Regions from separate parts of the Homo sapiens genome. Here region 1 is linked to region 2. Evidence: fine-mapped expression QTL. A gene starts in region 2. The other region holds a variant in brackets. All regions are shown on one strand. Distances are from middle to middle. Region 1 overlaps ETV4 (ETS variant transcription factor 4). Region 2 holds the start of DHX8 (DEAH-box helicase 8).

The links. PIP is the estimated chance that this variant, and not a neighbour inherited with it, causes the effect.
Region 1: its variant is fine-mapped to the expression of DHX8 in whole blood (TOPMed, PIP above 0.99). The same link has a PIP of 0.9 or more in blood mononuclear cells, lung and nasal epithelium.

Annotation. Positions count from the first base shown.
Region 1 is chr17:43,522,443-43,537,552 of GRCh38, forward strand. It overlaps ETV4 (ETS variant transcription factor 4), which reads right to left. Exons shown (of 13, transcript NM_001079675.5): 5 at 13,984-14,037; 6 at 11,417-11,543; 7 at 10,745-10,906; 8 at 10,232-10,497; 9 at 7,665-7,739; 10 at 7,442-7,510; 11 at 7,062-7,234; 12 at 6,693-6,794; 13 at 5,404-6,301. The coding sequence ends at 6,077. DHX8 (DEAH-box helicase 8) reads left to right here. Exons shown (of 23, transcript NM_004941.3): 23 at 1,186-3,228. The coding sequence ends at 1,405. Among named protein-coding and RNA genes, the nearest start is that of ETV4, 16 kb to the right of the region's middle. RefSeq lists a silencer at 3,399-3,693 and an enhancer at 6,153-6,694. The variant G/A (reference allele first, on the strand shown) is at 6,901.
Region 2 is chr17:43,474,771-43,489,880 of GRCh38, forward strand. It overlaps DHX8 (DEAH-box helicase 8), which reads left to right and starts at 9,205. Exons shown (of 23, transcript NM_004941.3): 1 at 9,205-9,415; 2 at 14,679-14,764. The coding sequence starts at 9,268. It overlaps LOC124904112 (U7 small nuclear RNA), which reads right to left and starts at 11,688; the gene lies at 11,628-11,688. It also overlaps the pseudogene RPL29P31. RefSeq lists enhancers at 8,898-9,740, 9,040-9,469.

The DNA.
Region 1 (15,110 bases), 48 kb after region 2:
TTGTGGTTTAAAAAACTACGTAGTGGCCAGGCACAGTGGCTCATGCCTGTAATCCCAGCACTTTGGGAGGCTGAGGTGGGCAGATCAGCCGAGGTCGGGAGTTCAAGACCAGCCTGACCAACATGGAGAAACCCTGTCTCTACTAAAAATACAAAATTAGCCAGGTATGGTGGCGCATGCCTGTAATCCCAGCTACTTGGGAGGCTGAGACAGGACAATCGCTTGAACCCAGGAGGTGGAGGTTGCAGTGAGCCGAAATCACCCATTGCACTCCAGCCTGGGCAACAAGAGCGAAACTCCATCTCAAAAAAAAAAAAAAAAAAAAACCAACTACCTAGGGGCTAGGCATGGTGGCTCACGTCTGTAATCCCAGCACTTTGGGAGGCCGAGGCAGGTGGATCACCAGAGGTCAGGAATTCCAGGCCAACCTGACCAACATAGTGAAACCATGTCTCTACTAAAAATACAAAGTTAGCCAGGCGTGGTGGCAGGCACCTGTAATCCCAGCTACTTGGGAGGCTGAGACATGAGAATAGCTTGAACCCGGGAGGCAGAGGTTGCAGTGAGCTGAGATTGTGCCATTGTACTCCAGCCTGGGAGACAGAGTGAGACTCCGTCCCAAAAAAAAAAAAAAAAAGAAAGAAAAAAACAACTACCTAGTGATGTAGTTTAAAAAAAAAAACTTGTTTTAAAGTAGCATTTTTAAAAAATTGGACTCTATCTAGAACCCTAATATAAAACTGATTTAAAACCACCATGTTATCACAGTAGAAGGGTTAGAAATGTGGCTCCTTGCATGTTTGGCCTTCTCCATCCCTTGTGGCAGTGTGAGGCCCCTCTTCAGAGCCCTAGAATTCTGTGGAAACATTCTAATAAACATCCTCACATTTTATAGAGCAAGAAACAGATTAGAGAAGGGATGTGATTGGCTCCATGTCACTTAACTAGTTAGAGCCAGAGCCAGGACTAGAATACATTCTCCTGAGACCTTTCTTGTGGTTAGAGGTGTGCGGGTGCTTCAGTATTGGGGTGTGGCTGTCATAAACAGACTGCAGTCTTATAGGTGTCAGGCAGGAGAGGTAATAGTATAAAATGTAAGCTCAGCTGAGGCCTACTAGGGACCAGGTTGACTGTAGAGTGGGGCCTATATCCAGAGGCTTGAGTACTATCTCTGTCCCCCCTCAGGGTGGTGTACCATGAGCTGGTGCTCACCACCAAGGAATACATGCGTGAAGTTACCACCATCGACCCTCGGTGGCTTGTGGAGTTTGCCCCAGCCTTCTTCAAGGTCTCAGACCCAACTAAGCTAAGCAAACAGAAGAAGCAACAGCGTCTTGAACCCTTGTACAACCGCTATGAGGAACCCAATGCCTGGAGAATATCTCGAGCTTTCCGACGGCGCTGAAAGGCAAGATTGTTCCTTTGCCTCTCCAGCAGCAGTAGCCAGGGCTTGGACTTATCGATGACAGGCTGGTCCTGAGGATACAGCTGTCCCGTGACTGACTGTCTTAACTGAGCATTTTCTCAACTCGACTCTCATTTCTTCCCTGCTGGTAAAATAGAAACAGGGATTTAAACCTGGCTTTGGCAAGAGCCTGCAGCCTCCATCACCCCAAGTCCTTGGGCCCAGTTGGGAGCTCATATCTAACACAGAGACACATTGCATCAACTTCAAGAAAGGGACAATTTGTGCAGCTCCAGGATGGGAAGGTGGAGTGGGTGAGCATCTTGTGCAGGGACATGGTGAGTGCCCTGATGCCCCAGCTAGCAGGAGCTACTGTGCTCATCTAAAGTGTTTGCCCCACTTCCCACCCCGTCTCCAGCCCCTGTACTTTGGCTTGACCTCGTGGAAATATTTATTTTCTTAAGGAAACAAAAATGGTTTTCTGTGACTGTTTTCTTTTAGCCGAAAGGTTAGGATATTGGCCTGGGCTCAGGGTGAGGGAGATTTAGTATCTGTGCTCTGGCACACATGATGAGAATCCCCTGAATCCCCTGAAACCAGAACGCAGGGCCTCTTTGCGCTCGGAAACGACGTACAACCCAGACTTCCAGCCTTGTCTTTCAGCATCAGCACTAGCCGGGCCGTGCTGGGGGATCACCCGATGATCAACCATGTCCTCTCCACAGAGCACTTCAGTCTGGAGGCCTGAGTGGCTACAGATGGCACATATTAAATACAGAAGGTTTCCCCTTGCTCCCTCCACCTCCCACATTCGCAATGTGCAGCATGTCCCATTTCCTTTTGAAACATACTAAGTAACAACACAGCTTTTATTTTATTTTGTTTTTATTTTTTTCCCCTGAGGTCCTGGATGGACTTTAACAAAGGGATTTTATGGTCAAAACCTCCCTTTCCCCACTCCAAACAGAAAACAAACATAACACCTCTCCTCTCAGCTGGTTTGTGCTGCCAGTATCTGTGCTGCAGGGCTTGTTCTTAGTGGTTTTTTCCTAGCACTTGCTTGGAGAATAGCCACCTCCTTGTGCCCTCCTCACAGCTCCTGAGGAGGGTTTTTTTTTTTTCTTCCCATAGAGATGGGTTCCCACTGTGCTGCCCAGGCTGCTCTCCAATCCCTGGCGTCAAGCAATCCTCCTGCCTCTGCCTCCCAAAGCGCTGGGATTACAGTTGAGAGCCACTGTCCTCTGCACTGAGGAGGCTCCTTACCTGGCGGAACATCAGGCAGGTCTTGCCAGGCCAGGTTTCGGAACTTACGGAAAGCTGGTCTGGATGTAGTGCTTGTAGAGAAGCTTCTGAGAGATTGGGCACATCCTGTTACGTTGCTGCTTCTCCTGTCCTTATGTTATTAGTAAGTTCTGAAGTGATGTAAATGCTAGAACTACTGTAGAACTGTATGCCAGACACTAAGAGAGACTATGTAACATTCCAGGATATAAAGGAATGTATGTTGTCACTGGGCAGCAAACCACACCCTAAAGACAATTCAGAAAGAGTCCGAGGGAGAGGAATATAGGCCAGGCAATCTGCTGGCTGCAGATCCCTGCCCCTTCATTAAGCTGAGTGCCTCCTGATTCTGTCTGAGTATTCGCCTTTGTAAGCCCAGGCCAGTAATCAAGGGGCAGGGCATTGTTGTGTGTTAACCTTGAAGGCCTTCTGGGGAGAGACAGTACAGGGACCTCAAATGAAACCAAAGGGGAAACGGGGACTGGGCACCCACCTCCCCAATCTCGTTTTGTTTTTGTTTTTGTTAAGACAGGATCTTGCCATCTTGCCTAGGCTGGCATCAAACTCCTGAGCTCAAGTGATCTTCCTGCCTCAGCCTCCTGAGTAGCTGGGACTACAGGTGCATGCCACCACACCTGGCTCCCAGTCCTAATTCCAGCCTAAATTTTCCCCATTCAGAAACACTCCTGGATATAGTGGCCCAGCCTGTCCTGACTGAGTGCCCAGCACTGACAATGTTGACACCTGGGGAGGGAGGGTTGGGTTTCAAGCTGAGGTTGAAAAGGGATGTTGAATGGGCTAAGGATAAGAGACAGCAGGGTTCGTTATCTTTTCTGGCTCAGGTGGAGGAAAAAGAAGGATCCCCATTCTGTGGGTGTTCCTTGACCATCTCTCTACGCTAGAGCTGAGGTCACTTCTCTGCTATGACAACATAGCTGGGTTCTGACCTTTTGACCATCAGGAAAGCAATGTCAGCAGCTGAGCTGAGCCTGCTCTGAGGGAGAAGGGGGGGGTCCTGTCCAGATGCAGAAGGGGAGCTTGCCTGCTGCTCTCACACAATGGAGCCCTTGTTTCTCTTCCTTGAACCAGTATTTCCCAAGATTGAGTGACAGCCCAGGAGAGGATGTGGGTCTCATGCAGAGAGCTGGGATCTTCTTGGCCATTAAAGTATATTGTTCACCCCCACCCCGCGAGAACCAAGCTCAGGAGTTGCCTGCCTCTGCACACATGCTGAGTGTGCTGTTTGTGTATATGGCAGGACCGTCCCTATGGGGCATGTGTGAGCTCCGCAGCTGGGTCAGGCTCCTCGGTCCAGGTTTACTTCATCCCGCCTGGACGTGATTTGGCTTTGACTGTCTCTCCTGCAGCCCAAAGCACTTCCTCCCTGTGGTTGCTGTAGCTGTCTCATTGGAGCAGTGCCTCTCCAAGTTTGAGGATTTGAACAAAGAACTGGGACTGGTGACTTGTTAATGAACAGTTCAGAGGGCAGAGGGCCATCATCTCAGCTTGTGGAGACCTTTCTTTCCCTGGATGCTGCTTCTCAGCTAACTCCCTCTCTCTTCGTGTGTGTACTCGGCCTTCAGGGTTTCCACCGATTTTTACACCTTCTTCCCACCACGATAGCTTGGCTTTAATGTGGAATTAAATTATATATTTTTAAAACCTGTTTTTAAAATTTTGTTTCTTGCACTAAATTATGTCAGTACATTGATATTTTGTGTTTCTAGGAAGAAGTAATGTTGCCTTTTATTTGTGGGTAGTAGTCGAGGGGCATCCCTTCCTGCAAGGGATGGTCTCAGGTTGGTGCTGGGCCAACCTGAGACATGAACAGAGTTGGGCTGGCCCAACCTCAGCACAGCTGCAGTTTCTATTTAACAGGAGAGCACCGGTTTTTACCTGAGCATGTCTCCTGGGCAGCGGTTTACATAGCAGCTGGCTCTAGAACCACCCATTCTGCCCCTCCCACCTGTTGTCACATCTCAGTCATACGTCCTCCATAGGTGTCACCATGTTGTCCACTTTGCCATTTCTACCTACCCCCAAAAAACTCAGCCTCAGGACTCTGATCTCTCCCAAATTTGGGCAAGGAGAATCTAGGTGTTTCCCACTCCCCGGAAGATCTAATCTCCACTGGCCAGAATCCAGGGCCTGCTCTAGCCTCTCTCTGTACCATCTGGCCTGGGAGCCTTTCTCCTTTGCCCCATTCTCCAGACAAACACTTGTCCCCAACCCCAGCAAAAGTAGCAACCTAGAGCTGAGGTAGGAGGGAGGACATGCAATTGGGGTCTATGTGGGACAGCAGGGTCATGGGAACAACTGGGATCACAGAAACCAAAGACCAAAACCCTGTCTGAGGAAGTCCCAGGAGGGAGACCCTTGCCACTCAGTAGCCCACCTGACCCGCCCACAGGGGCAGGGAGACTGCTGCTGGAAGCAGGCCCAAAGTGCACAAGGGGCGCCTGTCCAGGTTATCAAGTACCCCCTGTCCATTATTTCTGGATCCTCACACAGTAATGCTGGGAAGGGGGAAGGGCAGGTATCATTAAGCCCATTTTTCAGAAGAGAAACAGTCAGGTGAACTGCCTTTTTTCAAATCTACATGAGGATTTAAGCGCCAGGGCCTGGCCCCAAACCAGTCAGCTCTGCTTCAAGACCAGAGCTCTTTCTACCCCCAGGTCTGTTCCCACATGGCAGCAAAGAGGACACAGGAGAACTAATGGGAGAAGTGGGGGCCTTTATTAAGGTCTGGCAGATGTGGTGGAGGTGGAAGTACAAACCCAGGCCTGGGCCTAGGAAAGGGCAGAAGAAAGGCAAAGGGTCCCTTGGAGCAGGAACCCATCCCTCTCTGCTTATACCCAGCACCCCTCATCCCAGGTTCCTTTCTTCAACCTCCGCCTGCCTCTGGGAACACAGAGCACCAAGAACTGACAAACCGGGACCCTCCAGGGCCACAGCGTGGGGCAGAGTCCAGGCTTCTGTCTCCCCGCAGTGGGAGATCTGGGGAGCTCAGTGAACCTCCTCACCCTCCTGCCAGTATGAAGTTGGGAAGCGCCTTCTCTGTCCCCCAGAACAGAACAAACTCTTGTTCTCTGTGGTTGGGGAAAAGGTGTGGGGGGCTTGGACCTAGGAAGAAGCTGAGCTGAATTCCTCCAGGGCCCAGGTGAAACCCCCAGGGGAGTTTCTGAGACTCTAGACTTGCCATTTCTCCACTTTTCCTTCCCAATGACTCCGGTGAGCAGCTCAGAGTCTGGGCTAGGGCAACTGGTAGGACAGTGGGGATCTGCCCCAGAGACATCTGTGGGTTTCAGATGAAGGTTTCCCCAACACCAGATTCATTTATATGTACACAGGGCAGCACCCACCTGCGGCAGGGGGAACAGCCGCTGGGGGCTAGTAAGAGTAGCCACCCTTGGGGCCAAATGGCTGGGCGGGGCCAGCCAGCTCTGGGAGGTAGGCGGGGCTCTCATCCAAGTGGGACAAAGGGACTGTGTCCTCCTCACTGACAGGCCGGTCAAACTCAGCCTTGAGAGCTGGACGCTGATTGTCCGGGAAGGCCAAAGAGAAGAGGGCCTCGGGCTCACACACAAACTTGTACACGTAACGCTCACCAGCCACCTATGGGGAGAGAGAAGGTCTGGTCAGCCTGGCTAGCCGCCCAGCCTTTGTATGGGGTAAGGTGGGGGAGTGGGGAATGTGGCCCTTCTACCAGTACAGGCAGATGCTCGGGGCATTTCTCTCCCATGCTGGTTCCTGAGAAGCTGACTCTCCCTTCACAGTTCTTACTCCTTTTTCATCTCAACTTCTCCATGCTTGGGCTTCTCAGTTACAGTGTTGCACTTTTTTGGGGGAGGAGAACCTTGGGATTCTCCACAATTTCTTGTCTCTCTGACTGATTCATTATCTGATCCTACAAAGTTGCTGAGAACTGCCCTGCTGACCCTCTCCCCAGTCAGCTTCTCACAGCCACTGCCCCCCACCACCTTGTCCCTAGACCCACAGCCCCCACCTTCTGCATGATGCCTTTCTCATAATAGTATCGGAGCGAGCGGCTCAGCTTGTCGTAATTCATGGCTGGCCGGTTCTTCTGGATGCCCCAGAGCCTGGCGACCTGGGAACAAAACAGTTTTGGGGTAGAGATGCTACCTTGGCAGAGGAAAAAATGGGGGTAAGGTCAGAAAGAGCACTTGAGATTCTTGGTGCAAAGTGCCAAGCTA[G/A]CTCTGCAACAAAGCATCAGCCCACAGACTTAGGCTTGGCAAGAATTCAGGTTAGGTAAAGCAAGAATCATGATGGAGGCACGTGCCACCATTTCCCAGGTTCTCCCACCTCCAGGCTGTAAACTTTGGAAAGGAGGGCTGGGAACATCCGAGAGGCCCACCTCCTCAGGCTCAATGAGCTTGAACTCCATTCCCCGGCCCGTCCAGGCAATGAAATGGGCATTTGTTGGGTCATCCAGCAAGGCCACCAGAAATTGCCACAGCTGCAGGGCACCCCGGCGCTGGTAGGGCGGCCCCTCTCGAAATGCACCGACCCCTTCCTGCTTGATGTCTCCTGGGGAACACGAAAATAGGAGGTGTGGGGTTTGTGTCTTTTGGTCCCCCAAGCAACCGCCTCCCACCCGAGGGATTTCTCGAAGGGGTCTCCCCAGGTACTTTTCTATGGGTCCCACCCTCTTGCAACAATGAAACGTGATGTGACTCCTGCAGGGACACAGCGTGATAAGACCTTGACCCTCCCATCAACAGTCACTTCTCTGACCTTCAAATTTCTCAGGGACAACGCAGACATCATCTGGGAATGGTCGCAGAGGTTTCTCATAGCCATAGCCTTGTGGAGGAAATTGGGGGTTGCTCAGATCTGGGGGTTCACCGATGAGACCCCAGAGAGTCCAGAGGGACTCCTGGCCAGGGAGACCCTCCCCCATGGCAGCGCTCCCTCCCCCAACATGGAGGGCTTGGCAGGGGAAGGGGGGCTGCCTTACCCATGGCCCCGTCACCTGGAGAGGGCCCAGAGAAGCCCTCTGTGTGGAGGTACATTGATGCGCACCCGGTGACATCTGTGGGGGAAGAAGGGGTGATGTGAGAAGTGGCTTGGGGTGGAGCTCGAGGGCAGGGGAGGAGGAAGTCCTATCCACATTCAAGAATTTCTTCCTTCCAGCCTGCTTCCTGGTGACTGTTCTTTGCCCAGGTTGCCTGCCAACCACAAAATCCCAGGGAAAGTTCACCCAGAGGGAGTGTGATGCTGGAACCCCTCCTCAACTTGAGGGCTGCGGCTGAGGCCATGGAAGGCAGCAGCGGGGGCTGGGCAAGCTGTTCTGAAGGGCCCAAGCTGCCAGGGAGCAGCTGTTTCCTGCGAGTTCAGGGGGAGGAGGGAGGGTGAGATGAACGTCCGGGGAAAGAGTTCGGTGTCCACGCCTAAGACTCCCTCAGAATGGACAAAAATGTCCGGTCAGCAGGTCAGGTTCCCAGCCCTGTGCACGCGCGCGTGTGTGTGTGTGTGTGTGTGTGTGTGACAGAAACAGAGCGTGCGCCTGCATGCACCTGGGGAAGAGGCAGTGGGCACTGGGCCTTGTTTTTTCAGGTCTAACAGAGCACATTCCACTTCGTTTCATTCCATTCCATAGGATAGGAACCTTCCCACTCCACATCGGGAAGGCGGCTGTGTGAAGCCACCCGTTCAAGTTCCAACCCCTTCCCGCCCTCCCCCCACTGCACTCCCACCTATGAATGAGAAGATGGTGAAACATGACACCTCCGGGAGGAGGCGGGAGGGTGGGCTCATTCATGCCTCCATTTTGTGAATGGAATTCCTGACTCCATTCAGGAGTAGCTGGGGGGAGGGGCAGGAGTTCAAGGGCATGTAACACAATCCCCTCCGGTCTACAGCCTTTGAAGGTCAGCGGCAAGAGTGCCTCCCTCCTCCTCTCCCCAGCTCACTGCCAAGCCTGGCTCAGGCTTATGCCCTGGATTTGAGGACAGGAGCACCATCCGGTTCTTAGTTGGACAGCCTGGGGGGTTGTGGTTCATCCCCCTGCCCTTGAACGGTTGTGGGCACCACAAAAAGGGAAATTCTAAAGTTCTAGCTAGCTCTGGGCCTACTCTAATAAACTCAGATCTAGGGCTACTAATGTAACAAAAGCCAGGAGGAAAGAAGAAAAGGCAGGGTTTTCTGGACCCTTCCTGGGACTGGCCCTCCTTCGGCCCTTGAGGCTTTGAACTATAGCTATTTATGAACACAGGTGAGTGCATCTCACTCCAGTCAACAGCCAGGTGGAACTAGAATTTAAAGAAGTCCCTACTTCCTCTGCCCTTGCCTCTGGCCAGGGCATACATCAATTGGGAGGCTCAAATATGTAAGCCACATATTAACCTGTGCTTCTACCAGCTTGATCAACATGGTGAAACCCCGTCTCTACTAAAAATACAAAAACTAGCTGGGCATGGTGATGGGCACCTGTAACCCCAGCTATTCGGGAGGCTGAAGCATGAGAATCGCTTGAACCCAGTGGCACTCCAGCCTGGGCGAGAGAGCAAGACTCCATCTCAAAACAAACAAACAGAGCAAGACTCTGTCTCAAAACAAACAAAACAAAACAAAACAAGAAAACCCTGCCCTCCTATTGAGAACTAGCAAGAACCATGAGCCTGGCTAGTTTCAAATTCATGTTTCTCTTCATTCAAATCCCTTTGTATTTTTAAGCCTCTGTGGGGATAGGGACCAGACACATCCTATTCATCTTTGTATTTCCCAACTCTGCACACTCGTGTTCCTGTCACAGTAGTTTGGTCTTAATAGGTAATTAAAACCTCAAACACCTGTTAAATAGAAATAAATGCCTTAACTTCCCTATTAAGTCACAAGCTACCTGAGGGCAGGATCTACATCCCCCTTTATTTTAATTTTACTTTTTTATAAATAGACACGAGGTCTCACTTTGTTGCCTAAGCTGGCCTTGAACTAATTCCTGGGCTCAAACGATCCTCCTGCCATGGCCTCCTAAAGTGCTGGGATTACAGATGACTCACCATGCCCCGGGGGCCCCCCTTATCTTTTAATCTGAATATAGGTTTGCTCATTGAAAAGTAATAATTTGTCCGGGTGAGGTGGCTCATGTCTATAATCACAGCACTTTGGGAGGCCGAGGCGATGGATCATATGAAGTCAGGAGTTCGAGACCATCCTGGCCAGCATGGCGAAACCCCATCTCTACTAAAAATACAAAAATTAGCCGGGCACGGTGGCTGGTGCCTGTAATCCCAGGTACTCGGGAGGCTGAGGCACAAGAATCGCTTGAACCCGGTAGGCAGAGGTTGCAGTGAGCAGAGATCGTGCCACTGCACTCTAGCCTGGGCCAGAGCAGGACCCCATTTCAAAAAAAAAAAGAAAAAGAAAGAAAAATAACATTCTTTTGAAATTATGAAGAAAAAAAGTGGGTGGGTGGGTTGGATGTATGAAATGGTAAACAGCAATGTAAAAAAACTCGGGAGACATTCTGGGCTTAACTGAACACTTGATCACATGCCACCCTGCCCCACCCCAGTCTCTTACCTGAGTCGTAGGCGAAGTCCGTCTGTTCCTGTTTGATCACCACCCCCGCCCCTGGGTACCTGTGCCCATTGACCCCACCCTGGTCCACGGCTGGCTGGCCCGCCTGTTCATACAGGGGATCATGGTATTCTTGCTTAAAGCTCTGCTGGGGATAGGGTGGGCAGGGCTCCGACAGCTGGTGTTGGTAGGGGGCTGGGAGGGGTTCCCGGCCCCCTCCCTGAGATGTGAAGGAGTGGCAAATGTCCAGGGGCTGCTGGAAGACGGAGCTGGATGTGGTTGGATGGAGAAGGAAGAGAAGAGAACTTTAAATTAATCCTTCCTCGAGCCTGTTACTCCTAGGCTTTTAGAGTGGGCTCCGGAATGGGGGGTAGGGGGTTGGGGTGTCAGTATTTCTCCCTTTCTATTCCACTGCCCCCTGCCTCTACCACCCCACAGCTCAAGTCTTTATGGAGAACACTCAGGAATTGAAAAAACACCTGGGCCCATGAGCAGTGGGTTTCCCTGTCTCCTTACCTATGTTCCCCGAGGTACCCATGGCCAGGGTGGGGCTGGGAGGTGCCAGAGGATCTCAGGAAATTCCGTTGCTCTGCCCGGGGAAAGGGCTGTAGGGGCGACTGTCCAAGGGCACCAGGGGCAGGGGACTTGATGGCGATTTGTCTGGGGGGGTCATAGGCACTGGAGTTGAGAAGGAGACAGGGGTGAGGGGGCAGAGAAGCTGGAAAGCATCTTTGAACCCTTCATTCCTAGGAAAGCGAGGTCACAGGGATTACAGGAGAAGGAAGGATAGAGGGGGCTGAGAAGGGAACGGCAGGAGCCACAGACTCAGCCCTAGCCAATTCTTTTCTTTTTCAGAGACAGTCTCCCTCTGTTGCCCAGGCTAGTCTTGAACCCCTGGGATTCATACAGGGGGGATTTGTTGCTCAGAGCAATGGTTTAGGTGGGACAGTGGGCCTCTTGGTGGAAACAGAATCTGCTCTGGCCTCAGTATATATTCCTGAGGCCCTCTGCTGCGTTTTCCGTCTATTCAGAGGAAATCCTTAGCTGTATTGCTTCCTTACAAGTGCTAGAAAATCCTTTCTGTTGTCTAACTTGCATCTCAGCTGCTGCCTCTGCTCATGGGTGCCCCCTGCCTCCCTCCTCTGGAACCCTTCTCCTACCCTTCACCAGGTCCAGGCTGGGGCTCACCTGGAGTAAAGGCACTGCTCGCCATGGTGGTAGGGGAGTGGCGGCTTCCTGCTGCAGGACAGGGCCGGGTCTGTGCGGGGACTCTGGGGCTCCTTCTTGATCCTGGTGGTGGGGCTGTGGAAAGCTACTGTGGGGGTGGAGGGGACAGAGCAAGGCCAGAGCCTGTCACACAAGAGGCAGGCAGGGCTTCTGATACCTTCTGAGCTTTGAGGACCAGCTGGGTGACTGGTACAGCCTCCTTCCCTCTCTGGGTATCAATTTTCTGAGACCCGCAGTGAGACAAGAACATTTTGGCTATTTACATTATGTCTAGTTTATACATCAGACTAGTGTCTGATTATTGACTAAATAAACCATCTAAAGTTCAACATTTAGGCTGGGCACGGTAGCTCACACCTGTAATCCCAGCACTTTGGGAGGCAGGAGTCCAAGACCAGCCTGGCCAACATGGTGAAACCCTGTCTCTACTAAAAATACAAAAAAAAATTAGCCGGGGATGGTGGCGGATGCCTGTAGTCCCAGCTACTCAGGAGGCTGGGGCAAGGGAATTGCTTGAACCCAGGAGGCGGGGATTGCAGTGAGCCGAGATCATGCCACTGCACTCCAGCCTGGGTGACAGAGCGAGACTCCGTCTCAAAAAGAAACAAAAAACAAAAACATTTAATGCAACCCCAGGCCCCAGAAAACACTTTCAAGGAGTGAGCACCTCCAACCTAGGGCCTGTAGTTTTCCTGAGTGCCCTGGAAAATTCCAGGGGAGTGACATGTTTTCTTATTTGAGGATATAAAGAATCTTTCTTGGCCGGGCGCGGTGGCTCACGCCTGTAATCCCAGCACTTTGGGAGGCCGAGGCGGGCGGATCACCTGAAGTCAGAAGTTCAAGACCAGCCTGACCAACATAGAGAAACCCCATCTCTACTAAAATACAAAAAAATTAGCCGGGCGTGGTGGCACATCCCTTTAATCCCAGCTACTCGGGAGGCTGAGGCAGGAGAATTGCTTGAACCTGGGAGGCAGCGGTTGCAGTGAGCCGAGATCACACCATTGCACTCCAGCCTGGGCAACAAGAGTGAAACTCTGTCTCTAAATAAATAAATAAAAGAATCTTTCTTTTTCTGGTTGAGGTTGGATATTGGCCCACTTGAATGTCAGCTGACTAACATTATACACATGCTCCTACTTATCTGTGAAGAACACTGGCCTTTCCTGTGGCCCCTGCGGGGTTCCCAAACTCTGGCCACGAGGCTGAGCAGCAAAGAGTTGGTTCCAAGCCGGTGTGAGATTCAGTTTTAACCGCAGTCCAGTCAAATGCCGTTTGTAACCAACTATTCTCTGCTGTTTTTGATTCTTTGTGCCCCATTGTTTCACTGGTGAAGACAGTTGACAGCAAAGTATCTGACATTAAAGCAGGGTTTGTTTTTTGGTTTTTGTTTTTTTTGAGATGGAGCCTCGCTCTGTCACCCAGGCTGGAGTGCAGTGGCTCAATCTTGCCTCACTGCAACCTCCGCCTCCCAGGTTCAAGCGATTCTCATGCCTCAGCCTCCTGAGTAGCTGGGATTACAGGTACACGCCACCATGCCCGGCTAATTTTTGTATTTTAGTAAAGACGGAATTTCATCATGTTGGCCAGGTTGGTCTCAAACTCCTGACCTCATGTGATCCACGCGCCTCAGCCTCCCAAAGTGCTGGGATTACAGGCGTGAGCCACCACACCCAGCCTAAAGCAGGGTTTCTCAACAGTGGCACTACTGACCTGTGGGCCAGATAGTGTTTTATTAATAATATTGTAAGGAGCGGTCCTGAGCATCATAGGATGCTTTTAGCAGTATCCCTGGCCTCTCTATCCACTAGACACCAGTAGCACCCCACCCTCAACTGTGACAACCAAAAATGTCTACAGATATTACCAAATGTCTCTTGGGAGGCAAAATTGTCCCCAGTTTATGGAAGTGACTTAGAATACTAGAACTGGGGGCGGGCGCACTGGGCTCACGCCTGTAGTCCCAACACTATGGGAGGCCGAGGTGGGCGGATCACAAGGTCAGGAATTCGAGACCATCCTGGCCAACATGGTGAAACCCCATCTCTACTAAAAATACAAAAATTAGCTGGGTGTGGTTGTGCATGCCTGTAATCCCAGCTACTCTGGAAGCTGAGGCAGGAGAATGGCTTAAACCCGGGAGGCGGAAGTTGCAGTGAGCCGAGATTGTGCCACTGCACTCCAGCCTGGGTGACAGAGCAAGACTCTGTCTTGGGGGGAAAACAAACAAACAAACAAACAAACAACACTAGAACTGGACTCTGCTGAACTGGCCCAGGCCCCTCACTTCAGATATAAGGCAATGGAGAACCAGAGGGATAGTGTCTGCTCTAAGGTCACACAGCAAGAACATGTCAAGCCCCAGATTTCAACCAAGGTTTTCATTCCAGTTATTGCCTTGGTCTTTAAGATCAAACCCCACTGTGTTTTAGGAGAGAACAAGCTGCTCTCTTGTGATTCTCTATCCTATGACTCACTTCCTGCCATCCTCCACTCCCTATACCCTCTCCCCAGGGACCTCTACTCACGGTTTTCTGAATGGAAATCAGGAACAAACTGCTCATCACTGTCTGGTACCTGAGCTGCAGAGAGAAGTCAGAGGTGAGTTTGGGGCGGAGCCCTGGTTGTCCCCTGGGAGGCTCCATTATTACAGCCCTGCAGATTAGCAACAGCCAAGAAAGGACCAACAGCCTTTAGATCAGGGGTGTCCACATTGTAAGAATTGTCTTGGGCCACACATAAAATACACAAATACACTAACACTAACGATAGCTGATGAACTTAAAATCACAAACAAATCTCATAATGTTTTAAGAAATTTTACAAGGAATTTATGTTGGGCCTGGGCCGCATTCAAAGCTACCCTGGGCTGAAAGTGGCCCACAGGCCCACGGGTTGGACAAGCTTGCTTGAGACTAAAGGCTGCTCCACCCTAGGTCCTAGTGTCTTCCACCTCTGGGCTCCACTAAGACCCAGGAGGGAAGACTGTTCTCAGAACCTGTCTGAGCAGATTCCAGTCTTTCTTCTTCTAGATGCTTTGTCTTTATTTCCTCCATTTTTCTGAAGTGAAACAGCCTCGCCCCTCAGAGTTTACAAAACTCCCTTAAAGCTCACAACAGTCATATCTAGGATGGGCAGGCATTATAAGCAGTGGGATCCTGTGGATTTAAAAATCACATAGGAGGCGGCCAGGCATGGTGGCTCACGCCTATAATCCCAGCACTTTGGGAAGTCAAGGCGGGTGGATCACCTGAGGTCCGGAGTTCGAGACCAGCCTGGCCAACATGACGAAACCCCATCTTTACTAAAAGTACAAAACTTAGCTGGTCGTGTTGGCGGGAGCCTATAATCCCAGCTACTCAGGAGCTGAGACAGAAGAATCGCTTGAACCTGGGAGGCAGAGGTTGCAGTGAGCTGAGATCGCACCACTGCACTCCAGCCTGGGCAACAAGAGTGAAACTCCATCTCAAAAGAAAAATAAAATTAAATAATAAATAAAATCACATAGGGGGGTGGCTGGGCGCAGTGGTTCATGCCTGTAATCCCAGCACTTTGGGAGGCTGAGGTGGGAGGATCACTTGAGATCAGGAGTTTGAGACCAGCCTGGCCAACAAAGTGAAACTCCCATCTCTACTAAAAAATTAAAAAATTAGTC
Region 2 (15,110 bases):
AAAAAGAGAAGGGGTAGCACATTGAGGGAGAAGCAGATACGGAAAAGATTTTCTGTATTTTTATTTTATTTTATTTTATTATGAGACAGAGTCTCACTCTGTCACCCAGGCTGGAGTGCAGTGGCACAATCACAGCTCACTGCAGCCTCACCCTCCCGGGCTCAGATGATCCTCCCACCTCAGACTCCTGAGTAGCTAGGACTACAGGTGCCCACCACCACACCCAGCTAATTTTCGTATTTCTTATAGAGATGGGATTTCACCATGTTGCCTTGGCTGGTCTGGAACTCCTGTACTCAAGCGATTCACCTGCTTCAGCCTCCCAAAGTGCTAGGATTACATGCGTGAGCCACTGTGCCCAGCTGGGAAAAGATTTTCTATTTTTAGGTTGATGCAGAATTGAGCATGTTTGTGGGAAGAGGGTAAGAAGTAAGGAGAGAGAAAAAGGGTAAGAACATGAGGGATGAGAGGAGTCATCAGTGGAGGGGGATGAGATGAGGCATGTGCTTTCTGCAGGGGAAGAGATGTTCCTAGAGACAGAAGGTAAAGATATGGACTAATTCTAAGATAAAGGTGATGGCAGGGGTGGGGGTGGGGTCTTGAATGACCTCCATCTTCCCTGTAAGTAGAAAATGAGGTCTTATAATAAGTGTGGCAGGGGTGGATTTTGGGCTTAAGGGAGTTGAGAAGTCTTAGGCAACACTGTATAGAAAGCCACCGTCAAAAAGAGCCCAGGCCAGGCGCCGTGGCTCATGCCTGTAATCCCAGCATTTTGGGAGGCCGAGGCGGCTGTATCACCTGTGGTCAGAAGTTCAAAACCAGCCTGGCCAGCATGGTGAAACCCCCTCTCTACCAAAAATACAAAAAATTAGCCAGGCATGGTGGCGGGCGCCTGTAATACTAGGTACTCGGGAGGCTGAGGCAGGAGAATCACTTGAACCTGGGAGGCGGAGGTTGCAGTGAGCCAGTTGCAGCGAGCTGAGATCACACCATTGCACTCCAGCCTGGGCAGCAAGAGGGAAACTCCATCTAAAAAAAAAAAAAAGCCCAAATGAAGCCCAGGTGAGGTTTGGAATTGTGAATCTATACTGGGTCAAACCAGCGTGACCTTGGGACTTTCTCCAGCAATATCCTGCAGTGTGGGAGGGGAGAAACAGGGCAATAGGAGCCAGCTGGGGCTGGGAAAACACGGGCAGTAGAAAACCAGTGAAGGGAAGAAATCCTTGGCATTTATGAGCAAATTTCAAAATGGCTGAGCATGAGATCTAGGCCAGGAGGAAATATGAGTGAAATGAAAAGAGTGCTGATAATTGGAGAGAAAAGTGTAGATGAATGACTTAGAGACAACATGAAATGTTCAGTGGTAGAGAAAAAGCAGAATATTTCCAGTTCTAGGTGCTTCAGGAGCCACAGCTTAAGGTGCAGACATGGCCAAGTCCAAGAACCACAGCACAAACAACCAGTCCCGAAAAAGGCACAGAAATGGTATCAAGAAACCCCGATCACGAAGATATGAATCTCTTAAGGGGATGGACCCCAAGTTCCCGAGGAACATGTGCTTTGCCAAGAAGCAAAACAAGAAGGTCCTAAAGAAGATGCAGGCCAACAGTGACAAGGCCATGAGTGCACGTGCTGAGGTTATCAAGGCCCTCGTAAAGCCCAAGGAGGTTAAGCTCAAGATCCCAAAGGGTGTCAGCTGCAAGCTCGATCGACTTGCCTACATTGCCCACCCCAAGCTTGGGAAGCGGGCTCGTGCCCGCATTGCCAAGGGGCTCAGGCTGTGCTGGCCAAAGGCCAAGGCCAAGGATCAAACCAAGGCCCAGGCTGCAGCTCCAGCTTCAGTTCCAGCTCAGGCTCCCAAAGGTGCCCAGGCCCCTACAAAGGCTTCAGAGTAGGTATCTCTGTCTGCCAACGTGAGTACAGAAGGATTGGTGCGATACCCCCCGGGCTGCCATCTGCACGGGGCTGGGGTCCTCAAATAAACCTGAGGTAGGAAAAATAAAAAGAAAAGAAAAAGAATAAGTTGGGTCAGAGGGAATTTCACAGAATGAGATTTAGAAGTCAAGCCACTTTAAATAATGATAGAATCTAATGTGTGGGTTTGATTATATTACCTCTTAAACCCCTTTCAACTCTAAAACTCTATGAGAAATATGAATGAGTGAATACTGCACTTACATCCAAATTTCCAAGTGGCTGACAGTGTGACCCCAATCTATCCTTGTTACATATGAAGTCCCATCAAGTCCAAGTCCATGGGGATAGACTTGGACTATTTTAGGAATTTCTGCATGTGCTCAATGATAAGGATAATCAATCACTATTGGACCTATATGTCTTTCAAAAAAAAATTTTGTTTTTTTTGAGACAGGATCTCACTCTATCACCCAGGCTGGAGTGCAGTGGTGACATCATAGCTCACTGCGGCCTCAAACTCCTGGGCTCAACCAATTCTCCGGCCTCAGCCTCCTAAATAGCTGGGACTACAGACATGAGCTACATGCCCAGCTAATTTTTAAATTTTTTGTAGAGACGGGGGTTCTTACTATGTTGACCAAGCTGGTCTTGAACTCCTGGCCTCGGGGGATCCTCCTGCCTCAGCCTCCCAAAGTACTAAGAATGGCTGGGTGTGGTGGTTCATATCCGTAATCCCACCACCTTGGGAGGCCAAGGTGGTTGGATCCCTTAAGCCCAGGAGTTTGAGACCAGCCTGAGCAACACGGACTCCACCTCTACAAAAATTACAAAAATTAGCTGGGCATGATGGCACATGTCTGTAGTCCCAGCTACTCAGGAGTCTGAGGGAGGAGGATTGCTTGAGCCCAGGAGGTTGAGGTTGCAGTGAGCCATGGTGGTGCCACTGCACTCTAGCCTGGGACAGAGCGAGACTCTGTCTCTAAATAAATAAATAAATAAAACAAAGTGCTGGAATTACAGGCATGAGCCACCATGCCCAGCAAAACTTTTAATATAAATTCTACTGTCACCAGTATTTGATAGTAGACTGTGGAAGTTAGGTAAGATCAGAGTCTGTGTCACATAAAAGCAAATGTATGGCTAAGAAGGAAAAAAAAACCTTTGCTTCACACGTATCCATGTAATAGAGGTTTATCCTCACTTCCCCCTTTCCCCTCCCTCAGTCAATTTGCAATAATAATAATTTAAAAAAGGTAAAGTGGTGATGTCGTGGAACAAATTACTTTGCTTGAAAGACACAACTGCAGGTTGGTGTTTACGGGAGGACTCAGACTTGGCATGGTATTGTGAGGCAAAGAGGACGCTTGTTAGGAACTTGTGATCATTATTGAACCAGGCAGGGGAACCTGGGCCCCTGAACTCTGTCTCTTTATACTGCATTTTGAAAGCAGCACTTGGCTCTCTAATTGCCCCATATGCTGGTTTTATTCGGTGGCTCAGCTGGGTGGAGTGAACTCTGGGAAGAGATGCATTCATTTTTAGTTACCTCACCAGATTGCTAATTTTCACTCTGGAGGCATAAATCACCATAATTACTGTAATCCCAAGACGAAGGGACTTGCTATTCTGGCACAAGGGCAGCAGCTATTTGTACCGCCAAAGCTGTTCTACCTGAGAGCTGGGGAAAGAGTTGCATATGGCTGGTTCTGCCAGGACACTCTTAGATTTGGGGTGGAGGGTGTGCTCGGAGCCCATTATCCTTTACTTGGGAGAAATGGAGATCCTGGAGGAGCAGTTTCTTCTGTGTTAGTGGCAAGCCTGTGGCTTAAGACAGAGCTTTGGCCCTCGGCTCACTGCACAGCCCACACTGCCCAGCTGTTGACATGTTTGACTTGCAAACAGAACATCAACAGAACTTCAGAACTTCAGTTCCTCTTCTCTCATCTTTTCCCATCAACTCATTCCTTGGTTTGTCTTGGTTTTTGTTTTTGCATTTCTCCTGAGGAAATCCTTATTAATTTCTGAAGAAATTACCTCAAATAGAAACCAGATACTACAAAAATCCCTAGTACCCTGGAGCAGAGGCTAAATATCATTAGGGAGGGGGAAAACAGAAAAAGCCCAGTGTAACTTGTCACTTTGTCATTCATACTTATAATATGGATTAAAATTGTTTTCTTGTTCTTTATTATTTTTAATAGAGATGGAGCCTTGCTTTATTGTCGAGGCTGGTCTCCAACTCCTGGCCCCAAGCAATCCTCCCACTTTGGCCTCCCAAAGTGCTGGGATTGCAGGTGTGAGCCACCATGCCTGGCCATTTTTTTTTTTTTTTTTTTTGAGACAGAGTCTCATTCTGTCGCCCAGGCTGGAGTGCAATGGCACGATCTCGGCTCACTGCAAACTCCACCTCTCAGGTTCCAGCGATTCTCCTACCTCAGCCTCCCGAGTAGCTGGGATTCCAGGCGCCCACCATCATGCCTGGCTAATTTTGGTATTTTTAAAGTAGAGACTTGGTTTCACCATGTTGGCCAGGTTGGTCTCGAACTCCTGACCTCAGGTGATCTGCCTGCCCTGGCCTCCTAAAGTGCTGGGATTATAGGGGTGAGCCACCGTGCCCAGCCCAGTGTTTTTCTTTTTAAATAAAATCAACCTAAACTAAGTCTAAAAAATACCAACTAGATCCTGAATCAAGGTCGCTTAAAAGATGAGTAACTGGCGCAGTGGCTCATGGCTGTAATCCCAGCACTTTGGGAGTCTGAGGCGGGCAGATCACGAGGTCAGGAGATCGAGACCATCCTGGCTAACACGGGAAACCCCGTCTCTACTAAAAATACAAAAAGTTAGCTGGGCGTGGTGGCAGGCGCCTGTAGTCCCAGCTACTCAGGAGGCTGAGGCAGGAGAATGGTGTGAACCCGGGATGCAGAGCTTGCAGTGAGCCGAGATTGTGCCACTGCACTCTAGCCTGGGCAACAGAGCAAGACACCATCTCAAAAAAAAAAAAAAAAAAAAAAAAAAAAAAGAAAAGAAAAAAGAAAAAAAGAAAAAAGATGAAAAACTGATAAATAAATATGAAAAAATTCCTTGCCATTTCCACAGAAGGTGGAGAGGCCGAGATGGGGGAATACCATTTTCTTGACAAGTTCATATCATAATGGTGTCTGGGTGCCTGGCTTTGTGTTTGTTTTTGCCTGACATTTTGAAGAGTCTTAAAATGCAAGAGAAATGGGAAACTTGACTATACCAAAAAAAAAATCTGCTTAGGAAGAACATTTTTTTTTTTTTTTTTTTGCCTAATACTATAAAGCCTTGGAGAATTTAGAATCTAAAGCATCTGTTATTGCTGATGGCAGGTTGATGGCCTAAAAAGAGAGGGAACTGTAGGTCAGGAATGTTTTGCGCAAAAATGAGGCTGCGCTTGGGTATTAGAAAATAAGGCAAACAAATAACAGATTGCAACAGGATAAACTGCCCTGTGAAGTAGACTTGCCCTCCAACCCCAATCTGCCTGCCCTCAGATGACGGTAAACAGACCAGCTTTTTTTTTTTTTTTTCTGTCTTCCAATCACCTGCCCTCATGTTTAGGCAGCAGAGATCTAAGTTATAAACACAGCTCTGCCAGGAGACCCCTTGGCTGAGAATGGCATTCAGAGTATTCTAGTTCTTCCTTGATGTTTTTCCACTTTCAGACCTCCTATCCTTTTTAGAACCTGCCACAGTGCCTGGTCACAAGGTTGAAGTTTAATACAAATTTAATAAGTTGGTCCAAATTTGGAGATGAATTCTGGGGAAAAGTCAAACAGTGAAAAATAAGGAATTTTACTTTCTCTGGGGGCTCCCAGGCTCTCTGGTTGGGTCAGGGCCCAAGTGGAGCAGGGAAGAAGGGGCCACTCTTTCTGAAGTCTCCCTGCATGAATGACAGTAACAGTTGAGTGGTAGTCATATGCTTAGAAGCAAACCATTCTGATTTTGCCTCCTAGAGCAGAGATGTCTCCCCTAAGATCCATTTTACCCCAGCAGAAAAGGCCAGGGTTGTCTGGGTTGTGGCAACACTGTTTTGACAGAAAGCCCTATGATTTTTCTCACAAACTTCCCTAAGGATGCTGTCTTTCAGCTACACGTACTTAGATAATTTCTTCTCCCTTACCAACTCAACCTGATGTTGCTAAGAGGTTCAGTACTTTCTCTCTGCTTTCTACCTCATCCCAACCCCCAAGTTCTTTCCCAAATTCCAGCAGCTGGGACCAGTCTCTGGGACAGAGCAGAAATAACATGGAAATCGGGGGTAGGGTTAAACACATCTATAAGTCTAGGAACAGGCAGAAAAGTAACATCCCTGTTACTACAAGTTTGGTATCAGGAAATAATTTCTTATCCATCATGAGTGGTGATATGGGTAGTATGAGCATAAGTTATATGTAGAGGTAAATTATTTACTGGGCTATTAAAGGGCCACATGGAGGCTGTCCAAGGAAAGTCATACAATAATAATGGAAATTTATTATTATTATTTTATTTTTTGAAACAGAGTATCACTGTCGCCCAGGCTAGAGTACATTGGCGTGATCTTGGCTCACTGCAACCTCCGCCTCCTGGGTTCAAGCAATTCTCCTGACTCAGCCTCCCGAATAGCTGGGACTACAAGTGTATGCCACCACGCCCGACTAATTTTTGTAGTTTTAGTAGAGTCGGGGTTTCACCATGTTGGCCGGGCTGGTCTCGAACTCCTGACCTCAGGCGATCTGCCTGCTTCAGCCTCCCAAAGTGCTGGGATTACAGGTGTGAGCCACTGCACCCGACCTAATAATGAAAATTAATTATATCTGATATTATGTTGAAAAATATTCTATCCAGAGGACAGTTCGGAAACATTTACTTTTGCACTGCGTTCGATTCACGGTCTCTTATGGGGAGGAAGAGTAGGAGGATTCCATGTGCATCTGTGTTTGGGCTGTCAAGTTATCTGTATCTACATAACTATTTGTTTTCCTTTGGCTTCAAAGAAATTTTTGGTGTTGCAAGAAATATGTATATTGCAGAAAAACTGTCACTTCTTAAAATGTGCAGTTAATGGCATATCTAAATAAAATGTAATGTTTTGCTGTTAATATTTACTATTGATATATATGTTCAATAATTCCCAAACAATTCTAACATTTAGTATTTATTAATTCTAGTATTTATTGCTACTACTGCTGCTACATGTTATGGTTCCATAGCCCCTATTCTGACAGAGCTTTGAAAACAAAACAAACTCCCTATCTGTTCCTCCTTCCGGTTAAATATTGGAGGAAAGCAGAATAGTAATATTAATTTTTAAAGAGAAAGAAGCACAGAGAATGAACATCAGATAGAATAAGCCCTTGAAATCGTAACTCCAAGCTGGCAAATTGAGCACATTGGATCAAGTGCAGAGTTTTCCATTCTATTCATGGGGAGAAAGAGGAAGCGAAATGGGGAGGGGTAGGAAGAACTCAGAGGGTTTAGTAGTGATTCCTTAGGAACCTGGAAACCTGGAGCTTCTGGAGACAGTGAGAACAATGGCTGGGTTTTTCTCTGCCTGTCATTTTTCAGTCCATGATGAGATGTTGAAGAAACAGAGTCCAAAGGTACACCAGTGTAAAAATGTTGCCAAAGTGAAAAGTGGGAGACTGATTTCCTCCTTCCGATTGATTGGAGAGCCATTCACTTTAGGGTGCTTCTGTTTCCTTACTCATCACACAGAGCACTGGAGTGTGGGAAAAATCCCCATCCCACATTAAGGTTGCCACAAAGGTAAAAAAGACCTGAAGCAGAAGTTGGGAGACCTGAGCTTATGACCTTGGACTTACAGCACAGCTGATATTTGGGGGAATAAGGTTTGTTGTTGTTTTTGTGTGTGTGTTTTGTTTGTTTGAGACGGAGTCTCACTCTGTCGCACAGGCTAGAGTGCAGTGGCGAGATCTCAGCTCACTGCAACATCCACCTCCCAGGTTCAAGCAATTCTCCCGCCTCAGCCTCCCTAGTAGCTGGGACTACAGGCACATACCATCACGCCCAGCTAATTTTTGTATTTTTAGTACAGACGAGGTTTCACCATGTTGGCCAGAGTGGTCTTGAACTCCTGACCTCAAGTGATCCGCCCGTCTCGGCCTCCCAAAGTGCTGGGATTACAGGGGTGAGCCACAGTGCCCAGCCCCTGGGGGAATAAGTTCTGAGAGGACACAGGAAAACTGGGGATTGAAAAGCAGGTTTTCACAAGAGTGGAGGCAGCTGGCTCTGTGGGTTCCCAGACTAAGGGGATCTGTGCTTGACAGACCAGAGGCCAGTTCTGTGACCATCATCTCAGCCTTGAATTTTTTTTTTTTTTTTTTTGAGACAAAGTCTCACTCTGTCGCCCATGCTGGAGTGTAGTGGTGTGAACTCAGGTCACTCCAACCTCTGCCTCCTGGGTTCAAGCGATTCTTGTGCCTCAGCCTCCCGAGTAGCTGGGACTACAGGCGCCCACCACCACCACGCCCGGCTAAGTTTTCTATTTTTAGTAGAGATGGAGTTTCGCCACGTTGGCCAGGCTGGTCTGGAACTCCTGACCTCAAGTGATCCACCAGCCTCGGCCTCCCAAAGTGCTGGCATTACAGGCGTGAGCCACTGCACCCGGCCTAGCCTTGTGATATTAACAGTAACTGTCATTTGCGGTGTGCCTACTCTGTGTCACACTCCTTGCAGTTATTCCATTTAGGGTAGAGCAACATTATTCTAGTTTACAGATGAGAAAACTAAGGCCCCAGAGATTGATTTGCCCAAGCAGCCAGCTGGCAGTGGAAGTGCCAGTTTCTTCGTGTGTAAAACAAGAGAAGGCAATCTACTGCCTACTGGCTTGTCAAGGGTCACTTGAGATCGGACGACAGGAACCACAAAGAAGTGAGGCCGGGAATTTGCGGATCCACAGTAAAGCAAGTTTGTCTTTTTCCAGACGTGCATTAAGATTCCTTTTTCAAGTGTTCTAAAGCGCAGGCGCAGGCTGTTTTGCGGTTGCCTCCCGGCGCCTCTTGTGCAGGCCGGGGTCGCCCTCTGCCGACCCAGGGCGGGAGCGCGCTGAGTGAACGTTTCCAGGCCTGAGGGCGGGCGGAGATTTTTCTCGCCTGTAGAGGGCGCAGATCGGCGTGCAGAGTAACCCACTCTAGTTGTCCCTTCCTTAAGCACTTCCTGTTTGATCTCTATGATCCATCCTGTTGGGACTTGATTCGTTCCTCAAATTTTCAATTTACCGTAAACAAAGGGGACGCGCGCTGACCCGGAAGTGAAAGCTGGAACCCGGCCGGAGTAGCTCTGAGCGCCGGCTGTGAGGAAGGAGGTTCTGGGCAAGCTATAGCCATGGCTGTGGCTGTAGCCATGGCGGGAGCCTTAATCGGGTCGGAGCCAGGCCCCGCGGAAGAACTTGCCAAACTCGAGTACCTGTCTTTGGTGTCAAAGGTTTGCACTGAGCTGGACAATCACTTGGGGATCAACGACAAGGACCTTGGTGAGCTCGGGGAGGTCCCTGGGACCTCAGTTTGGGATTGAGGGAAGCGGAAGGAGGAAGGAGGAAGGAGAAAGGTGGTTGATGGACCGAAAGTATGTTCGTGTGAATCTGTCTCTCTCTGTCGCAGACACCGGTGCCCAGGGTACACGCTGCCGTGGCCTCGGCTTGAGAGCCCTCGAGAAACTTTAGAAACTTTCCCAGAGCTGTCAGTGAAGCCCGGGGCGGTCATCTCTGCTTGATTGTTTTTTGTTTGTTTTTTCAGCCTCAATTAAACATGTTTAACAACAACAGCAGCAGATGCTGCGATGACGACGATGATGGCTGACGTTTATTGGGTGCTCACTATGTGCTAGATGCGATGCTCAGCTCTTTATTGACATTATTTTATTTGGTCTTCACGCCACTCTGTGACATAGTAGTTAGCGTCTGTGCTTTTAACTGTGTTCTTTGACCGTTCATCCTGTACTCTTTTTTGAGGCAGGGCCTCGCTCTGTTTCCCGGGCTGGAGTGCAGTGGCACGATCTCGGCTCACTGCAGCCTCCACCTCCTGGGCTCAAGCAGTCCTCCCACCTCAGCCTCCCGAGTAGCTGGGACTACAGGCGGGCGCCACCAAGCTCGACTCATTTTTAAATTTTTTGTAGAGACGGGGGTCTCACTGTATTGCCCAGGCTGGTCTCGAACTTCTGGGCTCAAGCAGTCCTCTTCCCTCGGCCTCCCAAAGTGTTGGGATTACAGGCGTGAGCCATTGCGTCCTGTACTATGTCTTAAACACCAGTCACTAGATGTTTTGGGGCAAACTACATCTGGGGAGCCGAAACTGAGGAATTAGAAAAGGCTAGGGTCCTAAAGCTAAAGCCATAGACAGATGGAGCCTTTATGAAGGTACAGAGGATGGATGGGATCAAGGGCAACCAATGGATGGATTGACCTTTGGTACGTACAGCAAGGCTTCTTCAGTTGTAACAGGAGCGAGGACAGAGAATACAGTTGCAGATTCAGATGAGTTTAGAGATTGGTGGTGGGAAGATGAGTGAGAGAGTTCCAGCCCACTCTTCAGTTTCCTAAATGAAGATAAAGTCATCAACCGGAGGGATGGAAGGGAAGGGGCAGGTGACAGGAGGGGTTAGGGAAGTTAGACGAGTGACCTTTGGTAAGATTCATAGTTTCTCTGAAGCTGTTTTTCTCATCTGTGAAGTGGGACGATGTCTTCACAGGGTCACCATATAGCATTTAGGAAGATGCCCTGCAGCCAGTATATTTTAGTTTACTTTTTTCTCTTGCCTCCCAGCCAAGATGTGTCTGTCCTATATAACTTTTCCCGCAGGATTCTTCTCTTTTAGTTGATAATGAGGTGATAATTTCGTCGGTTTTGCTATCTCGTTAATATGTTTCCTTTATTCAGCAAATATTGAGCTGGGGGCTAGGCATACCACAGAGAACAAGACAGATTTCTGCTTTCAGGGAGCTTACCTTTCTCTCTGTTTTCATTTTAACTCCTAATACCTTGGCCTTTTAGAAGAAACAAAAAAGTTATTGACATTAACCCCCAGTGTTTAATTGTTTTGATGTTAACTTCATTTGTGTACAAAAATAGAGCGAAGTATAAACTTCATAATCTTTTAGTTTATTTATAGCTAAAGATCTCAATTAATTTGCAGAAAACCCACAAATATGCTTTTTCTGTTACATACAGAATTATAAAACCAGTAACATTAAAAGTACTAACATTGGCTGGGTTTGGTGGCTCACGCCTGTAATCCCAGCACTTTGGAAGGCCAAGACAGGCCGATCCCCTGAGGTCAGGAGTTTGAGACCAGCCTGGCCAACATGGCGAAACGCCATTTCTACTAAAAAAAAAAAATACAAAAATTAGCTGGCCATGGTGACTGGTGCTATGCAGGAGGCTGAGGCAGGAGAATCGCTTGAACTCAGGAGACGGAGGTTTCAGTGAGCTGAAATCACATCACTGCACTCCAGCCTGGACGAAAAGAGCAAGACTTTATTTCAAAAAAAAAAAAAAAAAGTACTAATATTGGTTTAATGCAATAGACAGTGTCTTTTGTTGAAACTAAATTGGCAGAGTTGGGTTTAATAACAGAAAGGCATATATTTGCTTCTTTTATGTTTTGTTTGCTGACTTGATTCTTTTGCTTTTGACCCTGATGGATGACTTATTAATTTATGTATTTAATTTTTGGGAGAGTTGAGATAGTAGAGTTTCCGATGAAAACTGGAAAACCTGCTAGACAAATTCTAAAAGAACTGTAATACTGGATTATCATTTAAATTAGTGTTATTTTTACTGTTTTCACCAATGAATTTTTTTAAACTATAAATTAATTTTTTATAATGGATTCAGTTAATTTAACAATTCCCCTGTATAATTGTGAAAATTAAAAATACTGATTAATGGGACCAGGCGCAGTGGCTCACACATGTAATCCCAGCACTTTGGGAGGCCAAGGCGGGTGGATCACGAGGTCAGGAGTTCGAGACCAGCCTGACCAACATGGTGAAACCCTGTCTTACTAAAAATACAAAAATTAGCAGGGCGTGGTGGTGCACGCCTGTAATCCTAGCTACTCAGGAGGCTGAGGCAGGAGAATCACTTGAACCTGGGATGGGGAGGTTGCAGTGAGAGGATCGTGCCACTGCCCTCCAGCCTTAGTGACAGAGCAAGACTCCGTCTCAAAAAAAAAAAAAAAAAAGATTACTGATGGCTGGCAGTGAGAATGTGCTTCAGACTGCTTTGGGAGGGGCTCTTTTGAGCATGACATGCCTAGCACCATGGGACTTAGTTCTCCCTCCACATTTCTTGAAAGAATGTAGCCTCTGAAGTTAGATTGCCTGGGTTTTATTCCTAGCTCCCCCCAGTTATTATTGGGTAGGTCAGTGTCTCAAACCGTCAGCTTCCTCATTGTAAAACATGACAATAATAGCACCTACTTATGAGGGTTGTTTTGGGGATCATGAAGTAACCCATAAAAAGCACTTAGCATAGTGCCTGGCACGTAGTAATGTTCAAAAAGTATTAACCATTGACATTATCGTTACTAACTTATTATGCATAAGATGTGTTCGTGTAGCCTGATGGCATTTGGCTTTCACTTTATCAGAAAGATAAAGGCACATTCCAGGATGGAAATTGTATGGTAGTACTACTTTATGAGTTAGTCATCTAGATCTTTCATGTTATTTATTCATTTACTTTTCTAGGATTAGCATTCAAATGAAAGCATTACAGTTTTTTTGTGGGTCTCATAGTATGAGGCTTATTATCTCAGTCTACTCCCGAGTAGCTAGGACTACAGATGCATACCACCACCCCCGGCTGATTTTTGTATTTTTTGTAGAGATGGTGTTTTGCCATGTTGCCCAGGCTGGTCTTTAACTCCTGGGCTCGAGCAATCTGCCCACCACAACCTCCCAAAGTGCTGGCATTACAGGCGTGAGCCACTGTCTGAAAGTAGCTTAATAAATAGCTCTAATATTAGAAGTTTCAAGAACTAGGCCGGGCACAGTGGCTCATGCCTGTAATCCCAGCACTTCGGGAGGCTGAGGCAGTAGGATTACCTGAGGTCAGGAGTTCAAGACCAGCCTGGCCAATGTGGCAAAACCCCGTCTCTACTAAAACTACAAAAATTAGCCAGGCGTGGTGGAGGGCACCTGTAATCCCAGCTACTTAGGAGGCTGAGACAAGAGAATTGCTTGAACCCGAGAGGCGGAGGTTGCAATGAGCCAAGATCGTACCACTGTACTCCAGCCTGAGAGACAGAGTGAGACTGTTAAAAAAAAATGAAAAAATAAAAAAAGTCCAGGTGCGGTGGCTCATGACTGTAATCCCAGAACTTTGGGAGGCCGAGGCAGGCAAATCACAAGGTCGTGGGTTCGAGACCAGCCTGGCCAATATGGTGAAATCCTGTCTGTACTAAAAATATAAAAATTAGCCGGTCATGGTGGCATGCGCCTGTAGCCCCAGCTACTTGGGAGGCTGAGGCAGAAGAATCGCTTAAACTCAGGGGGCAGAGGTGGCAGTGAGCCAAGATCCCGCCACTGCACTCCAGCCTGGGCGACAGAGCGAGACTCCGTCTCAAAAAAAAGAAAAAAAAAAGAAAAAAAGAAAGTTTCAAGAACTAGGCAGGTGTGCCGGGCACAGTGGCTTATGCCTGTAATCCCAGCACTTTGGGAAGCTGAGGCGGGTGGATCACAAGGTCAGGAGATCAAGACCATCCTGGCTAACATGGTGAAACCCTGTCTCTGCTAAAAATACAAAAAATTAGCCAGGCGTGGTGGTGGGCGCCTGTAGTCCCAGCTACTCGGGAGGCTGAGGCAGGAGAATGGCGTGAACCCGGGAGGTGGAGGTTGCAGTGAGCCGATATCGCACCGCTGCACTCCAGCCTGGGCGACAGAGCCAGACTCTGTCTTAAAAAAAAAAAAAAGAAGAACTAGGCAGGTTTGTGGAGAAAAATTTGGCAAAAAAGTCTTTCATCAATGTGGAGATTGCACCACCCAGCAGCTGCCTGGCCCTCATATACAGATTGGGTCTGTCCTTCTGTTGTGTGCCTCTGTGTGTCTACATGGGCTCATGCTTTTTATTGTCACCTTTACAGTCTAGTCTAGGTGGCAGCGTGCCCAGGTAGTGGTTTTGTGAGAAGAGGGTACCATGATGTGGGTCAAATAGGTCTTCCTAGTTTAAATGCACTCAAGGGCTACATTGAGCCATTTTGTAGTAATATCTTCCTTTCATTTGTATAAATTCTCTAGAATATGTGTGGATAATTTCAGCAGTCTAGATTTTCTCTCTTGTTTTCTTGTTTTGTTTTTTTTGTTTTTTTTTGAGACGGAGTCTCACTCTGTTGCCCAGGCTGGAGTGCAGTGGCGCAATGCCGGCTTACTGCAACCTCTGCCTCCCGGGTTCAAGTGATTCTCCTGCCTCAGTCTCCCAAGTAGCTGGGATTACAGGTGCCTGCCACCACACCCAGCTAATTTTTGTATTTTTAATAGAGACGGGGTTTCACTGTGTTAGCCAGGCTCATCTTGAACTCCTAACCTCAAGTGATCCGCCTGCCTTGGCCTCCCAGAGTGTTGGGATTACAGGCATGAGCCACCACACCTGGCCAGATTTTCTCTCTTTACCCTTACCAGATGGTGGTCTTTGTTTTTTATTACTGTTGGATAACCTAATTAGTTTTGTTTTCACCATACTTGAAACTGATTTCTTGTTCATGTCTCTTCTTTTCTGAATTCTGTTTCTTATTTGCAGCTGAATTTGTGATCAGTCTTGCTGAGAAAAATACCACCTTTGATACTTTTAAGGCTTCTCTCGTCAAAAATGGTGCAGAATTTACGGTATGTATATGTGGAGAAGATAATCTGTAGATATTAATGTTTTAATTTATGTTTGTTTGTTTGTTTTTTTTTTTGAGACAGAGTTTTGCTCTGTCGCCTGGGCTGGAGTGCAGTGGCGCCACCTCAGCTCACTGCAAGCTCCGCCTCCCGGGTTCACGCCATTCTCTTGCCTCAGTCTCCCAAGTAGCTGGGACTACAGGTGCCTGCCACCATGCCCGGCTAATTTTTTGTATTTTTAGTAGAGATGGGGTTTCACCGTGTTAGCCAGGATGGTCTCGATCTCCTGACCTCGTGATCCACCCGCCTCGGCCTTCCAAAGTGCTGGGATTACATAATTTATGTTTTA